Linked DNA regions of Homo sapiens: region 2 is linked to region 1. Evidence: fine-mapped expression QTL. A gene starts in region 1. The other region holds a variant in brackets. All regions are shown on one strand. Distances are between the middles of the regions.

Region 1 (8,316 bases):
CCTCTGGGAAGGACTGGCACAAGCACTTGGTCCCTGGGTTGTGTGCCTGGGAGGCCGGGATCAGGGCTGGCCCTCTTTCTCCCTGGCAAAGCAAAACCTCCCTTTTACTACTATCAAGGGGAAGTAACTTGAAGGTAGGAACCCAGCTTGTGAGCCCCCTAGCCTCTGGGCTGCTCTGCATGTGCCCCCTCTTGCTGGATCATCTGGTAGCAGCCCTGTGCCCTGAGGGTGATGCTCTGACCTATGCAGCCCCCCTCCCTGTCCTGAGAAGGCTTCCAGCTGGGCCTTGGAGGACAGGGTCCACCCCTACCTCCTGGTCTCCTTCCTCAGCTTGGAAGCCCCGGAGCCTGCCCTGCTGGGAATCGGGGAAGCACTGCTTACCTGTCTCCTGCTCCCTTTTCAGGTGCCTGTGGCAGGCAGCACCTTGAGCCAACAGGAACCATTGACATGCGAGGCCCAGGGCAGGCAGACTGTGCAGTGGCCATTGGGCGGCCCCTCGGGGAGGTGGTGACCCTCCGCGTCCTTGAGAGTTCTCTCAACTGCAGTGCGGGTATGTCTAGGGCCATGCAAGCGATGCTGCCAGTTATGGGCCCTGCCAGGAGCCAGCACGACGCTGCATGCCCCATTCCTGGCAGGAGCCCATGTGCATTCCCACCTGTAGTTTGCATCCCATCTCATGACTGGGGAGTGATGATCTGCATTTTACAGATGAGGAAACTGAGGCTAGGAGAGATTAAGTGATGTGCCCAGTTACTTAGAGTCACATAGCCAGCAGTGGGAGAGGTGGGACTTGAACTCGGCTCAGTCTACCCTGGAGCCACTCCTCTGCTGACCAGGCGTGGGAGTGCTGGACCCTCACTGCCCTGCCGCTTCCTAGGGGACATGTTGCTGCTTTGGGGCCGGCTCACCTGGAGGAAGATGTGCAGGAAGCTGTTGGACATGACTTTCAGCTCCAAGACCAACACGCTGGTGGTGAGGCAGCGCTGCGGGCGGCCAGGAGGTGGGGTGCTGCTGCGGTATGGGAGCCAGCTTGCTCCTGAAACCTTCTACAGAGGTATGGCCAGGCCTTCTCCACCTCCCTTGGGTGCTCCAGTCCTGGCAGGGAGGCTGGGTGGGTGCTGCTGGGGATGGGGCCAGTCCCAGTGGGGCAGTGGGAAGATACGGAGGGAACTGACTGAGATGGAAGGAACTGGGGTTGGCCAGTGTCAGTCTGCACGTGCCAGGGAGGGGTCACAGGATGAATGCTATATCCCTCCTTTTTGGGACCGTGCAGCAAGATGGACGGATGTGGGACATGGTCCACATCCTCAGTCAGTCCCTCAGGCCTCTGCCCCACACCCACCTGCCCCGCCCCCACCCCTCCAGCCTTTCAAGGGCTTTTAGGGTTTTGTGGAAGCCACTGTCCCTCAGCCCTGTTTCAGTGCACTGGTGTAAGCAGACATGCTTGTACATGCATGTGCACCCACAAGCACACCTCAGGCAGAGGATGCCACCTCAGGGACTCCAGCCTTGCCCGTGGCCCCCTCGATATCCTCTGATAGCCCTCTCGGTTGTCCTGGGGGGCTTGCCCTCTCCCAACAGCCCGAGCTGGCCGAAGTTGGCTTCCCTAGCTGGTTCCAGAGGTTCCTCGGCTCCCCCAGGTGTCTGGGGCTTAGTGGCAACAGGGGCTTAGCCTCTGCAGAGACCTAGTGCGCCGCCTCCTTGCCCCAGACCTGCCCGGGCAGAGAGCCGTGTATGTGTCCCAGTGCACAGGCGCTGCTGGGCCCTGCCAAAAGGCCACAAGCCCACTGTCACCGTTCACATTGCTTCTCGCTTCCCGGCCCAGCCCCGCCCACACAGGCATCTGCCTTGAAAGAGGTGCAGGAGGTACAGGCAGGTGGGGGCTCCAGTGAGCTCTGAGGAACAGCAGTGGCCGCCATGGGTGGAGCCTATCTTTGTTGCCAGTTTCAGTGTTAAACACTCTTGCACGTGTGACATCATTGAGTCCTAAAGACCACTCTGCTCAGTGCATGCCATTGTTTCCTTCAGTTACAGAGGAGGGAACCAGAGCCCAGAACATTTAGCCTTTGCCTAAAGTCACTGGGCCAGGAAGTGGTAGAGGTGGGGTTCAGCAGGATTTGCCTGGGAACCCCAATATTGACCACAGTGCCATGCTGCCCTGCACGGCTCCCTGGCTGTGAGTTGTCCTGGCCTCTGGCACCACCGGTCTGTCTGGGTTCCTATGTCCCTATGTCCCACCTGCAGAATGTGACATGCAGCTCTTTGGGCCCTGGGGTGAAATCGTGAGCCCCTCGCTGAGTCCAGCCACGAGTAATGCAGGGGGCTGCCGGCTCTTCATTAATGTGGCTCCGCACGCACGGATTGCCATCCATGCCCTGGCCACCAACATGGGCGCTGGGACCGAGGGAGCCAATGCCAGCTACATCTTGGTGAGGCCCAGCATGGGGACTTGTGCTGTGATTCTGGACAGCTTTCCCTAGGGCGTGCAGGGCTAGGGGACCCCCTTCAGTTTATTTCAGACTAAAACCCTCAAAATCATTAGTGAAAGAATGGGAGAAGATAGCTTCCTCCACATATTCACCAAGAAATGTTTTTTGAGCTACCTACAAGAGTGAAATAGTGGCTCACAACTGTAATCCCAGCACTTTGGGAGGCCCAGGAGGGCAGATCACTCAAGGTCAGGAGTTCGAGACCAGCCTGGCCAACATGATGAAACCTTGTCTCTACTAAAAATAGAAAAAGTAGCCAGGCATGGTGGCGTGTGCCTGTAATCCCAGCTACTTGGGAGGCTGAGGCACAAGAATCACTTGAACCCGGGAGGTGGAGGTTGCACTAAGCCCAGATCGCACCACTGCACTCCAGCCTGGGCAACAGAGTGAGACTCTGTCTCAAAAAAAAAAAAAAAAAAAAAGCGAAATGGTAAAGAATGGTAAAGACCTTTCTGATGTAGACTGACAGCTAACCCAAGACTGAAGCATAATTTTACAGTCTGATATAACTTGGACAGAATAGCACCCTGCACCCTCCCCGAGGTTTCAAGTGTCCTGGGAGAACTGTGTTCTGCAGGGTATCAGCTTCCCCAGAGGAGGCAGCCTGGCCCCGCTCTGGCACCCTGACTGTGTGTCCTTGGGGAAGTGATGTAACGTCCCTGGACCTCGGTTTTCTGGGTAGAGTAATGGCGTATTCCTAGTAGGGCTTTGTAAGCATTAAATGTGATCCGGAATCTGTGAGCCCTTGCACACGAAGGCTTCCGTGAGTGCTAATTATTACTTGTGGCCGGTCCTTCTGGGCTGCCCCTTTTCTCTCAGATCCGGGACACCCACAGCTTGAGGACCACAGCGTTCCATGGGCAGCAGGTGCTCTACTGGGAGTCAGAGAGCAGCCAGGCTGAGATGGAGTTCAGCGAGGGCTTCCTGAAGGCTCAGGCCAGCCTGCGGGGCCAGTACTGGACCCTCCAATCATGGGTACCGGAGATGCAGGACCCTCAGTCCTGGAAGGGAAAGGAAGGAACCTGAGGGTCATTGAACATTTGTTCCGTGTCTGGCCAGCCCTGGAGGGTTGACCCCTGGTCTCAGTGCTTTCCAATTCGAACTTTTTCCAATCTTAGGTATCTACTTTAGAGTCTTCTCCAATGTCCAAAAGGCTAGGGGGTTGGAGGTGGGGACTCTGGAAAAGCAGCCCCCATTTCCTCGGGTACCAATAAATAAAACATGCAGGCTGACCGGCGTTTTTTTCTTATAAGCTGTCCAGACCTGGCTTGAAAACCCATCCCATGGCAAGGCAGGGATTCGCTGGCCGCGGTTGGCTCTATCTTGATCTGAGCAAGCCGCTGGACGTCCCTAGTTATCTTCTTCCTATCCAGGAAGAAAATCCAATCAGGATTCCACTCCGAGGATGGCGCATTAGCCAGCTCCCTGCGAAGCCCCACCCGTGTGTCCTGGTGTGAGGCTCTGACCGCTAAGGTGTCTGCGCGCCTCCAGGCCCCGCCCCCTATGCTAATAAGCGCCCGCCTCCTTTGGGAGCAAGTCGCCGCAAACTGCGAGCCCCCGCCCCCTACGCTAATGACGCCCGCCCCCCTCGGGCACACCTCTCCGATGCCTGCGAGCCCCGCCCCGTATGCTAACGAGCTCCCCACCCCCAGCTCCTCGCCGCAGCCTGCGGGTCCCGCCCCCTACAATAATGAGCACCTACCTCCCCTCAAACGCCCCTAGTCGCGGCATGAGGGTCCCGCTCACTATGTTAATGAGCACCCGCCTCCCTTCGGGCGCGCCTCGCCGCAGCCTGAAAGCCCCGCCCCCTATGCTAATATGCTCCCTCTCCCACAAGGCAGCGCGCCGGCTCGGACGCGGCCGGCTACCGAGCCCTTTGTGAGGGCTGTGAGCTGCGCCTGACGGTGGCACCATGAGCAGCTCAGGTGGGGCGCCCGGGGCGTCCGCCAGCTCTGCGCCGCCCGCGCAGGAAGAGGGCATGACGTGGTGGTACCGCTGGCTGTGTCGCCTGTCTGGGGTGCTGGGGGCAGTCTGTGAGTATCCAGTCGGGGAGAGGGGCCGGCCCCGCCGCGCATGCGCTCCTCGCCCTGCCCTGCCCCGCCCCGCCCCGGCGGCCCCAGGGGAAAGGACCCGCTGGGGGTCGGGGGTCTGCCGGGCGCCTCCCGGGGCGGAGGAATGGCGGGGCCGCCGGGAGCCGGCGTCCTGGGGTTGCCATGGTTACCCGCTCGGGCCTGGGCGCCTTGGTACCCCGGGCTGGGCTGGGCTGGCGCTTCTGGGAACATTCCCGGAGGGACCAGAAACCCCAGGGCGGGGGGGCGGCGGGGGCGGGGGTGGGGCACCGGCCTGGGGCACGTGACTGAGCCCTCCCCCCGCTCCCCAGGGGCTTTTGTGAGACTTTCTCGGTGATGCTCACGGGGCGCATGCCCACCTGGCCCGTACTAAAGCGTCAACTGTTGACTTGGGCGTAGGTGACGGCAGCCACATTGCTAACCTTTGGGCAAGGATTGTTTGTAAGGGAGGCGGGTGCACGGCTGGCTAGATTTCTGGCAGGAAGCCACTGGGCGGAAGTTTGCTGAGGGTCAGGTGGTGTCAGGGCACAGGTGGCCCCTGGGGCCGCGGGGCAGTGAGCTGAGGGCCCGGCCTCTCCCTGGGTCCTCTGTCCGCTCTCATATCTCCCCCGTTGCTGCTGCCTTAGCCGCCTGTCACCGGCCTTCCTCCCCTTCTCCGCACGCATCCCAGTCACAGACCCTGACCTTAGGCTGCCAGGGAAGCTAGGCTCTTAAGCACAGCCAGAAAAGGACAAAGAGGGAGGCAGGTCAGCTCCAGGAGTGAATGGAAGCCGTACAGCTGGCCTTCCAGGGAAAGACAAGTCTGTCTGAGTGATACCCTTTCCTTTCCTGTCTGCCCTCAATCTTGTGGATTACTGGAGTGGGCAAGGTCTTAGAGAATGTCTGTCGAGGATGTCTGCAGGTTTTAAACAGTGCCTGCCTGGCAGAGAGGGCTAGCTCTGGGCCTGGGCAGGGCAGGCCCCATCAGCAATCCTGCCAGAAGGACCACCTTTTCAGGGTCACCTTGGGTTCCACAGCCTTTCCAGGTGGGTAGAGGGTGGAGGGAGGTTGAGGCAGGAGGGTGCTGGGCTAGGAGTGTGCTGCCCTCGCTAGGCATGCCCTTATCCAGAGGCAACGGATACGGTAGGGCAGGCCCTACCCCCAAATCACAAAAAGGCCCCGAGTTTGTGTCACTGCTCTTCAGGGCAAGTACGCTTTTGACTTTGTAGGAGAGACTGGTGGGTTTGAAGTTAGGCATTGGATCCAGTCCTGTCATGTCTGGTTAGCTGTTTTCCCTGCAGATTAGGGTGGGCAGTGCAGTGGGGTGACATGGTCAGTGGTGAGAAAGGAAAGGTCCTGACTATGGCCTGTAGGCCACACCTCCTTCCTTCTTGGTCAGTGGCCCTGCCGACTCCCAGATTTGCTGTGGAGTCTTACTCAGTTCTGTGCCTCTCAAAGTGAGGTACCTCTGCCTTTCCTGGGAGTTCCTGGGGCTCTGTTGGGTCTACAGATGAAGCTTCAGGAGAAACTTGTGGCATTGCCCTGAGTTGTCAGTTGCATCTGCAGATTTTTGGGGGCATGGTTATGTGAACATCAAAATGCTGTATTACAGGGTAGAATGCAAAAATGCAGGGTGTTTTAGAGATGCGGCAGGAGTTCAGACAAGGGTTGTGTGCCGGGCTGGTCCTTGGGTAAGGTTTTCCTCCTCCAGGGTGAGGGGATCAGAGAGAGTACCTGGAGAGGGTCTACCCTGGGTCCTAAGAGCATCTGGAGGTGATACCTTGGGAGGGGACAGGATTGCATGGTGACAGCCCCCTCACGTGGAAGATATCAGCATTGAGGCCCCCAAGTGGACATCCTCCAGCCCTTTATTGCTAAAGGATTCCTGGCTGGAGCCTGCTGGTCTGGCTTGACACCTGGTCCTCCCCCAAGGCTGGCTGTGGGTTGGACAGCTGGGGTAGGGTTGGAGCTGGAGGCCAAATGCTGACTGCAGCAGGAAGCACAGCCGAGCTGTCAGGTGAGGCCAGGCACAGCAGAGAGGCAGGGAGCCGTGTCACCCTTTGGGCACTCTGCTAGGACAGGCAGGCCCCTGTGTACCTGTGGTTCTGGAACACCTTGCTGTCTGAAGGCAGATGTCTAAGGCTGTGCTGAGGAGCAGTGCAACGCTTGAGTCCTTTGTTTTAGAAGGAGACCCTGGGGGCCCATGAAGCAGTCCCATTGCAGTTCGGCTCACTTTATCTGGCTTCTTTGCCTGCTGTCTGCATAAGGTTACCTGGGAAAATGGAAAACAGCAGAATTCCAGACCCAGGTGGAGGGATCAGGTGCAGAGGAGCTGCTGCAAGTTTAATGAGCTGGGTGCTAATTGCTGCCTCCAAGGCCCCCCTCAGTGATGGCCTGGGCTTGCTCCCTGCCCAGCAGCCACCTCCTTGGACCTGCCTTGAAGGCTCCTGGAGTTCCTGGTGAAGCCAGGCTGCAGGCTGTGGGTGGAGGAGGGAGTTGGGTGCAAGAGACCCTGCTGGTGAGGTGCAGCTGGGAGGCGGGGCGTCAAGGCTGCACATCTGAGCATCAGAGAAGCCACGTTCTGGGGTGGAAAACGATGCCCCCTCCCCTTCCTGGCCTTATGGCATTTCAGCGGTGGGTGGCTGGGCTGTGGGACTTGCTCATGTGCAAGAGGAGAAACGGGTCTAGGAAGATGAAGATAGCGTGCCAGTGGCACAGGGCTGGTGAGGAAGTTAGAGCTGGAACTGCTGCTCAGTCTTACCTGGTTCCCATCTCTGTTCTGAGAGAGGCACCCCTTGTCCCAACCAAAATCCAAGCCACATTTTCTGAGTCAGAGGACTTCTTGTGTGGCCGGCCCTGTGAATGGTGGCAAGTGACCCTTACCGAAGGCTGAGTCTTGGGGGAGCACTGGCCTGAATCCTTGAGGGACATTCACTCTTTAATCCTTCTTTAATCCTAACCTCCCTTTGAGGTGGATATTGATGTAGCTGGGGTCAGAGGGCCAGCTCCTCTGAGCCCTGAAACGGGGAGAGGATGCTGTGAGATCCACCTGCCACCTTGCTGCCACCTTGCTGTGGGGCCTGGGGCAAGCAAGGCACTGCACCTCTCTGCGTCTCCTCACCTGTCTCAGACGATAGAGGGCAGGCTTCTGGGTGCTGTGAGAACTGTGTGCTGAGCATCCGCAGAGACTCTCGTCCTTTCCAGTCATCTCCCAAGGCCGCCTTCCCAGCGGGCTCCGCCTGCCTCCCTGCTGACTCCTGCCCGTGTCTCTTGTTTCAAGCTTGCGCGATCTCTGGCCTCTTCAACTGCATCACCATCCACCCTCTGAACATTGCGGCCGGCGTGTGGATGATGTGAGTAATGCATGGCCGTCCCACCCCGGGGGTCTTGCTGGTCGGGAATCTGCTGGGCACCTCCCGGGACAGAGGAGTGGCAGGGGCCGTGGGAGTGGGCATCCTTGTGGTTGCCATGGCTACTGGCTCCAGCCTGGGTGCCTCGGGCATGTGAGTTTCTGGCCACAGCATGCGGCTTCTTCCCCTTCATACCCCCACCATGTTTAGTTTCCTAATGAGAGGTCAAGGCCCAGGGAATGCCCACCCCGGCCTTCATCCGGTGCAGGGGCAAGGCCATCAGTGCTCCAGACATTTCTGGAGCATCCACTGAGACTGCAGATGCCAAGTCCACTATACTGGGGCCCTCGCCCTCTGGGAGCTCCCAGGACTGGGGTGGGGAAGGCTGTTCATTGGGGCTGGCTGAGGACTGGGTTGAATGGTCTGCTG
Region 2 (8,326 bases), 200 kb before region 1:
GCTGGGCACATGCCCAAGGCTGGCTTTGGGGACAAAGAATAATCAAAGATGACACTTTGGGGCTGCCCTCTCCCCAGCCCTCCTGGGCAAAGTCGGTGCGTCCCAGGAGTCAGCCTGGACTTGAACCTCTGACACCCGATTGCTGCTGGCCTGGTGCAGGGACCCGAGGGGCCCGAGGACACAGGAAAGGGCCTGGAGGGAGAGAGCAGCCGGACTCCGCCCAAGCAATTTAGGCGCCTGCCTCATCTGTGGTCCCCCACACCCCCAGCTCACCAAGCAGCAGGACAACCCCTGGAAATCCCCCAGGGAGGCGGGGCGCAGGGATTGCAGTGAGGCCCTGTGCCCAGGCTGGCTGTGCCCTACCTGCGGGAAGAGTCACTCCAGTCCCTCTGGGCTGGTCCAGGTGCAACCACAGTAGGACACAGGTCAACTCCAGTGAAATGTGGAGGGAGGAAGGGTGTGCCTGCCTGCTCCTTCCCCTCCCTTGCAGGGAGGGGCGGTTGCCCTCAGCAACAGAATGCCCACGTGGGATACTGGAAGCTTCAGCTTACCCCACCCCACCCCTCCAGGCCCGGTTTGTCCTGGGCGCAAGGGGCTACTTCAGAGCTGCCAGGCCTCCACAGCAACACATTAAATGTTCTGGAAACTAGGAGATGTGGCACTGCTGTACAACGGTCAGGAATAGCCATCCTGTCCTCCTGACCCGGTGAAAACCAGCTTCTGCTGGGAAGGAGCATGGGGTGGCGCCTGGCTTTTGGAGTCAGGAAGAACCAGGCTTAAGTAATAGAACTGCCTGACCTCCAGCTTGTCTCTTCAGCTCCCAGGTCTGTGCTCGATTTGGGATTATTGGGTGGGGCACATAAGAAGCTGCGTTCTGTGCTCTCAGGGTGCTGGACGCTGTTTCAGGTACCAGTACACACCAGAGGGAAGAGAGTGCCTGATGGCATGGTGATTGATTTTAGTGGAGACAGCTAGACACTAAACCAGGAGTTCTGTCATGCCAGTTGGTGATAAATTGATTTCTTGAAGATTTTTCCACTTCCAAGCAAGGTAGAATAGATGCACCTGTCCCCACGCCCTACACTAAGGACAGTTAAAATCTCTGTATATTTCCCTGGGTATTACACATACATATATAACTACATACATAAACGTATGTATATCAAACACTAAAAGGTGGAGAGAAGAAGGCAGACCATGTAGGGACCTTGGGACCTGAGGAATGACATGACAGGAGTTCCCTGGGTTTTCTTTCTGCCTCATATATCTGTGACTGTGTGCTGGAAAAGCCAGCAACACGAAACACCAAAAGACACAGACAAAAACCAACAACAACAAACCCAACAAGTTGGCCCTCAGCCAAAATAATTAGGCAAGAGGAAGAAATAAAAGGTATCCAAATTGGAAAGGAAGAACTTAAATTGTCCCTGTTTACAGATGACATGATCTTATAGAAAACCCTAAAGATTCCACCAATAAGATGTTAGAATAAATGAAATCAGTAAAGTTGCAGGATATAAAATTAACATACAACAATCTGTAGCATTTCTATACCCTAACAAAGAAATCAAGAAAACAATGTCATTTACAATAGCTACAAAAAATACTTGCAAATAAATCCAACCAAGGAAGTGAAAGATCTGTATGCTGAAAACTATAAAACATTTGTGAAAGAAATTGAAGATACAAATAATTAGAAAGCTGTCCCATATCTGAGATCAGGTGCCAAAAAAAAGACATCCCATGTTCATGAATTGGAAGAATTAATATTGTTAAAATGTCCATACAACCCCAAACAATCTACAGATTCAATGCAATCCCTATCAAAATTTCATTGACATTTTTCACTGAAATAAATAAAATAATCCTAAAATTCGTATGAGGGAGTAACACCTGCTCCACAGTGGCACAAAGCACTGTCAGGTGCCACACACAGCCTGTTGGGACATGTGGGCCACAGTACTTCCCCACCTAAAGTACTGTAGAGGCCCAGGAGACATGAGCCAGGGCCATTTTAACTGTCAGTAATGGCCACAAAGACCCCTAAATAGCCAAAGCAATCTTAAGCAAAAAGAACAAAGCTGGAGACAATACACTACCTAACTTCAAGATATACTATAAAGCTATAATAATCAAAACATCATGGTATTGGCATAAAAACAAACAGACCAATGAAACAGAATAGAGAGCCCGGAAGTGAATCCATGCATTTACGGTCAACTGATTTTTGACAGAAATGCCAAGAAACACAATGTGGAAACGACAGTCTGTTCAATAAATGATGTTGGGGCCAGGTGCAGTGGCTCATGCTTATAATCCTAGCACTTTGGGATGCCGAGGTGGAAGGACCACTTGAGGCCTCCCTCCAGGCTCCGGAAGAGACCTCCTCCATGATCCCTTGTCTAAGGGGAAGGTTCCTCAGGACCTTACCGTGGGGGCTGAAGGTGGCCACCCCTCCAGGAACTTATGCCCCAGGCGCTGAATTTGGGCTGCCTAAGTCTGTGTGCGTGAGTCTGTGTTTGTGTGCATGTCTGCATGTCTGTGTGTTTGCATGCATGTCTGTGTGTCTGTGTGGTCTATGTGTCTGTGTGTACACTTCTGTATGTCTTTCTCTGTGCATTTTTGCATGTGTCTCCATGTGTCTCTGTGCATGTCTGTGTGTCTATATGTCTGTGTCTTTGTATCTGTGTATCTGTGTCTGTGTGTCTTTGCGTGTCTGGTGTATGTCTGTGTGTGTGTGTATGTCTGTGTATGTAACGGTGTGTCTCTGTGGCGGGGGGTGTGTGTGTGATTGTGTGTGTGTGTGTGTCTGTGTATGTAATGGTGTGTCTCTGTGGCGGGGAGGGGCTGTGTGTGTCTTTCTGTGTATGTGTGTGTAACGGTGTGTCTCTATGGCCGGGAGGGGGTATCTGTGATTGTGTGTCTGTGTGTGTCTGTGTATGTAATGGTGTGTCTCTGTGGCGGGGAGGGGCTGTGTGTGATTGTGTGTCTGTGTGTGTCTGTGTATGTAATGGTGTGTCTCTGTGGCGGGGAGGGTGTGTGTGTGATTTTGTGTCTGTGTGTGTCTTTCTGTGTGTGTCTGTGTATGTAATGGTGTGTCTCTGTGGCGGGGAGGGGCTGCGTGTGATTGTGTGTCTGTGTGTGTCTTTCTGTGTATGTGTGTGTAATGGTGTGTTTCTGTGGCCGGAAGGGCGTATCTGCGATTGCGTGTCTGTGTATGTAATGGTGTGTCTCTGTGGCGGGGAGGGTGTGTGTGTGATTTTGTGTCTGTGTCTTTCTGTGTGTGTCTGTGTATGTAATGGTGTCTCTGTGGCGGGGAGGGTGTGTGTGTGATTTTGTGTCTGTGTGTGTCTTTCTGTGTGTGTCTGTGTATGTAATGGTGTCTCTGTGGTGGGGAGGGGGTGTGTGTGATTTGAGGTGGGGACGGGGCCTAGGCTTCAGTTACTCACAACAGGACGGACAAAGGAAACAGAGTTTACCCGTTCTGCTAAAACCAAGGGCGGGAGGGGGACGGGGCTGCCGGCAGCCCTCCCAGAGCCCCTGGCAGCCGCTCACGGGTTCCGGACCGCCTGGTGGTTCTTGGGCACCGCAGTGAACCTCAGCTTCCTCAGGACGGCGGGCCAGCCCAGCAGCTGCTGGTCCCACAAGTACTCGGGGGAGAGCACCTTGGTGGGTTTGTGGCGCAGCAGGTACTTGTTCAGGTGGCTCTCGTCGTGCCACACGGCCTCGATGCCGTTGGCCTGGTCGACCATCATGGCCTGGTGGCAGGCCCTGGTGAGCCGCTGCACCTCTTGCACCGACCCCCCGAAGAACCCCCCCAGGTAGTAGAAATCGCCCTCGTCCTTGGG[G/T]ATGTAGGCCTGGGACTGGGGCCGGCGCTCGTAGGTGAAGGCCTCCCGGCTGCTTCCGTAGAAGCCGGGGTGCAGGGTGCCGAACAGCGGAGTCAGGATCTCCACGCCCACGTGGTCGCGGAACTCCATGTCCACGTCCACGCACACCAGGTAATCCACCTCGCTGAGGAAGCGCCGCTCGCAGAAGTCACTGATCATCTCCATGCGGCGCATGGACACGTCCTGCCAGCGCTTGTAGGCGCGCACCTCCAGCACTGACAGCTGCCGACCGGTCCCCAGCGTCACGCGGGGCACCGCGGCCGGCTGGTCGGTGAAGACATAGTAGTGGACACGGTGGCCCACCATGAAGTGCTTCTCCGCCGTCTCCAGGAACAGCTTCAGGAAAGCCACGTATCTGCAAGGCAGGCGGACGGGGGCTGGGGGAGCCGCCGGCCGTGCACCCCTGGGCTGCAGGAGGCCCGTCCTGCACCCGCCCGCCAGCGGCCATTGGAAGGCTTAGAGCAGCAGATGCACCACGTTCTCCTGCCCTGTCCTGAGCGAGTCCTCGGGCTGCGATTCACTTCATCCTCTTCCCAGCGATGGGGGACCACCAGCACCCCCTCTTACTAAGGAGGGCTGAGGGCAGGTGGCTGGAGGCTGGTAGCAGGCCGCAGGCTGGCGTCTGCTCACTCCCCCTCAGCCTGGCCTGAGCCACGCCTCCCCACGCAGCTGCCCCTCTTATGGCCAGGCCGGCCACGTGCTCCCTCATTATAAGCTGCACGCGAGGCCTCCACACACCCGCCTCTGCACCCTAGAGCTTCCTCCCTCCAGGCTTGAACTGCACCTATTCCTAAGAGTAAGTCATTCCTGGCCTCCGCCACTGTCGCTGGCCCAGCTGCCCACAGCTGCCGAGAAGTCAAGTATGTGTCTGCGGTTGCCTGGCTAGCTCCCTCTCTGGCCTGGCCCAGAGTCCCAGGGCCTTGTGGGTCAGCCACTTCCTTTGGTGTCTGGGGCCAACTGCTTTGCCTGCCCCACCTACATCTGACAGAGAAGTGACCACGGCTCTGCCAGCATCCTCTTTCTAGGGTCCAAGGACAGCAAACAGGTGTCCCCCTCCTGCTATCTCTGGTCAGTGAGCAGGAAACATCTGGAGCCTTGTATTGAGGGGGTGGCTCAGCATGACGGCCGGCCACAGTTACAGAGAGGAGGGGGCAGCAGAAGCCACCATCCCTGGGTGAGACGCAGCCTCTGGAGAAGGAGCTGGGTTTTACCGACCTGGCGAGCCCACGAGCCCACGAGCCCACATGAGCTCAGTAAGATGCTGCATGAATGACCTTTCCCATCTACCCTCTGGGAGGACAAGGCTGGCCGCCACCCCACTCTGTCTTGAACACAAGGAGAGACCTCAATGTCCACAGTCACTCGCCACTGCCTGGGTCTCTACCCTCGGCCACCTCACTGACTTACTTCTTGATGGCAAACACAGTTAACCCAATGGTGGTGTTCTGGAGCCTGAACTGCTCGTTGAGGATGTCGATGTTGAATGTGCCCTCCCAGACAATGGGAGCCAGCCAAGGGGTACCACGAGGACATCCTTCCTACTGCACATGGAGAGAGGCGTGCGGTCACATGGAGCTGGCAGGGTGCCACCCACATGCGCCTCTGGCACACGGCCGCCCCCACCTGGAAACTCCACTCAGCTTCTGCCTCCTCTGACCACCCTTCCAGAGGCAGCCGCCCTTCCCCGGGAAACCAACCAGAGGCAAATGCGACTCCAACCGGGCAAATCATTCCCAGCCCTCCCTCAACATTGGACCTGTGGGAACACACAGCAAGCTGAGCTTTGCTGGCAAAGAGATAGGAACAAACCCTCCCCAGCACCCAACCCCCGCTGCCCCTCCCCAGGTAGGAGGTACCTATCAGGCCTTTGCAGGGGCTTTGGAGAACAAAGGGACAGGAAACAAGAGACGCAAGTCAGAGAAAGCAAAGGGAAAGAGGACAGCCATGTGGGCCTCTGAATTCAGATGTCAGGAGAATCTGAGAGGAGAGAACGAAGCAGCCCCAACTGAGATTTACATCAAGGAAACCGCCCTCTAATACCTTCAGAACAGCCCCTTGAGCTGCGTTCAGTTTCAGTGTCAGTAACTTTACTCACCACGGTGTCAGCACCTTTGGCTGGGGGTAGACCATCCTGCAAGCGCAAAGCGCCGCCACGTGAGTTTGCATGGAAAGCGTGGGATGCAGGTAAGCAGGGGTGTGCACAGCCGCTGAACCATGACTGGGCATTGACCCTCCCGCCAAGGCCACACTCCCAGGCTGGAATCACTGTGGTTGCTTGGGGGCTGTGTCAGCTCATAATCCCGGGAACTCGGGAAAGGGCCAAAGCTCAGAGTCTCTGATTCAGCACTTACAAACTGGCAAGAGGGACTAAGTGACCTCAGGGGCCATTGCTTTCCACTTGACTTAAGGCTGGGAGGGACGTAAGGGGTTGTGTCTCAATTCACTGTGGGCAGAGAGGAGGCTGGGTGTGTGGCCTCTGTCCCTGGTTGTTCCCAGGGAAAGGCCCTGAGATGTGCAGACCTCCCCACCTGGGCCCGAAGCCTGCTGGGCCTCCTTGTGGGCTGCTGGCTTCCAGAGCCCGGCTTCCTCTCTGAGAAGTGGGAGAGTGACACCTGCTCCACAGTGGCACAAAGCACTGTCAGGTGTCACACGCAGCCTGTGGGGACGTGTGGGCCGCAGTACTGTCCCCACCTAAAGGATTGTAGAGGCTCAGGAGACATGAGCCGGGGCCATTTTAACTGTCAGTAATGGCCACAATTTGAATGTCCAAGATGGCCTTTAAAAGCAGGGAGTCAGCAGAAAACAGGAAGGAAATTCTGACACTTGGTACAACCTGGATGGACCGTGAGGACATCACGCTCAGTGATTTGAGCCCGACATAAAAACACAGGTACCATTGACTCCACTTATAAAAGGTAGTTGGAGTAGCAGACTCATAACAACAGACCATGGAATGGTGAGCTGGGGGAGGGAAAATGGAGTTGCTATTTTATGGGGACAGAGCTTCAGGTTGGCAAGATGAAAAGAGTTCTGGAGATGGATGGTGGTGATGGCTGCACAGCAATGTGAATGGACTTAAAGCTACTGAACACTCCAAAATGACTAAGATGGCAAATTTTATGTTAAGCGTATTTCATCACAATTTAAAAAAAATCAAAAGCAGTGTGGCCAGCTTGGCCTTGATTGCCTAGGTCAGCACTGATAAAGGCCCACATCCTGGGAAACAGCCCTCCAAGGCCCCAGACAGAACAGACCAGCTGGTCATCTTCTTTAAAAGCCAATTTGAAGGCCAGGTGCCGGGGCTCATGCCTGTAATCCCAGCACTTTGGGAGGCTGAGGCGGGCGGATCATTTGAAGTCAGGAGTTCAAGACTAGCCTGGCCAACATGGTGAAACGCTGTCTCTGCTAAAAATACAAAAATTAGCCAGGTGTGGTGGTGGGCGCCTGTAATCCCAGCTACTCAGGAGGCTGAGGCAGGAGAATCACTTGAGCCCAGGAGGCAGAGGTTGCAGTGGGCAGAGATGGTGCCAATGCACTCCAGCCTGGGCGACAGAGCGAGACTCCATCACACACACACACACACAAAAGCCGGCGACACGCATTTGGTCAAAACTGAAGCTCCAGCTCCATCGTGCTCTCTGAGTGGCTGCAGGACGAGGGCCAAGTCAGGGTAGAGACTGGGGAAGGAGCGGCCCCCTCCCTCGGAGCCACAGGAGGAAAGAGGACCTGCCCCAGCTCCCACATGGCACACATGTGCCAGGGCTGCAGGACAATTCTGTGACATGGGAGCCACTGAAGGGAGGCACTGACATTATACCTTGGCAACGAGACGCGCTGCAGATGGTCAGGTTCCCTAACAGCCATGCTGCAGAATGAGAACACAGGAGATGAAGTTTAGTCTAGGAGCAGGATTTAGGGCACAAGTGCATGGAAGCCACCCGAGGGTCCCAGTGGAAGGGGCACAGCGTCAGCCTGGAGTGTGGAGCAGAGGCCACCAGAAACAGTCACAGAACAACCATCACTGTGGCGATGGGCCTGACGTGGGCCCGTGTGCCAGACCCTGTAACGGCCAGCGTTGCAGTCTGAGGTCTACGTTCGGGGAGCCTCACAGCCCACACATTCACCAGACACGTCGAAGCCAAGGCCGGGCAGAGTGGAGTTTCAGAACATGTCTACAAACCATGAGGCCCCCTCCCATCAAGAGATGGGGTCTGATATTCTGTGTTTCTAAGAAATAAATGCAGCAGAAGTGATGCTGGGTGACTTCTGAAGCCAGGCCCAAAAAGGTGATCTGGCTTCTGTCTCATCTTTCTTGGGATGTTGGTCTTGGAGCCTCCCAACCAAGCTAAGCAGGAGCCCAGGCCCCAGGGAGAGGCCCTGGGTAGGTGTCTCAGATGACAGCCAGCATCAACTGCCAGAGATGCAGGGAAGTCTTTGCA

Direction of the effects. Positions count from the first base shown, and alleles are read on the strand shown. Sizes are in standard deviations (SD) of each study's normalised expression.
As copies of G replace T in region 2, the expression in subcutaneous fat of the gene that starts at base 4,313 in region 1 goes down (large effect, 1.2 SD a copy in TwinsUK).

The links. PIP is the estimated chance that this variant, and not a neighbour inherited with it, causes the effect.
Region 2: its variant is the best candidate, but not a certain one, in a credible set for the expression of CACFD1 in subcutaneous fat (TwinsUK, PIP 0.60).

What each region holds. Positions count from the first base shown.
Region 1 is chr9:133,455,666-133,463,981 of GRCh38, forward strand. CACFD1 (calcium channel flower domain containing 1) reads left to right here and starts at 4,313. Exons shown (of 5, transcript NM_017586.5): 1 at 4,313-4,522; 2 at 7,818-7,890. The coding sequence starts at 4,402. It overlaps ADAMTS13 (ADAM metallopeptidase with thrombospondin type 1 motif 13), which reads left to right. Exons shown (of 29, transcript NM_139027.6): 26 at 404-550; 27 at 878-1,054; 28 at 2,245-2,429; 29 at 3,309-3,721. The coding sequence ends at 3,515. RefSeq lists silencers at 788-940, 3,909-4,128, 4,139-4,238, 4,529-4,828 and enhancers at 1,391-2,258, 1,782-2,076, 6,771-7,327, 7,505-7,564.
Region 2 is chr9:133,252,115-133,260,440 of GRCh38, forward strand. It overlaps the pseudogene ABO. Among named protein-coding and RNA genes, the nearest start is that of OBP2B, 47 kb to the left of the region's middle. RefSeq lists enhancers at 1-1,300, 325-543, 3,303-3,835, 5,980-6,964, a cis regulatory region at 442-487 and a silencer at 1,620-2,407. The variant G/T (reference allele first, on the strand shown) is at 3,849.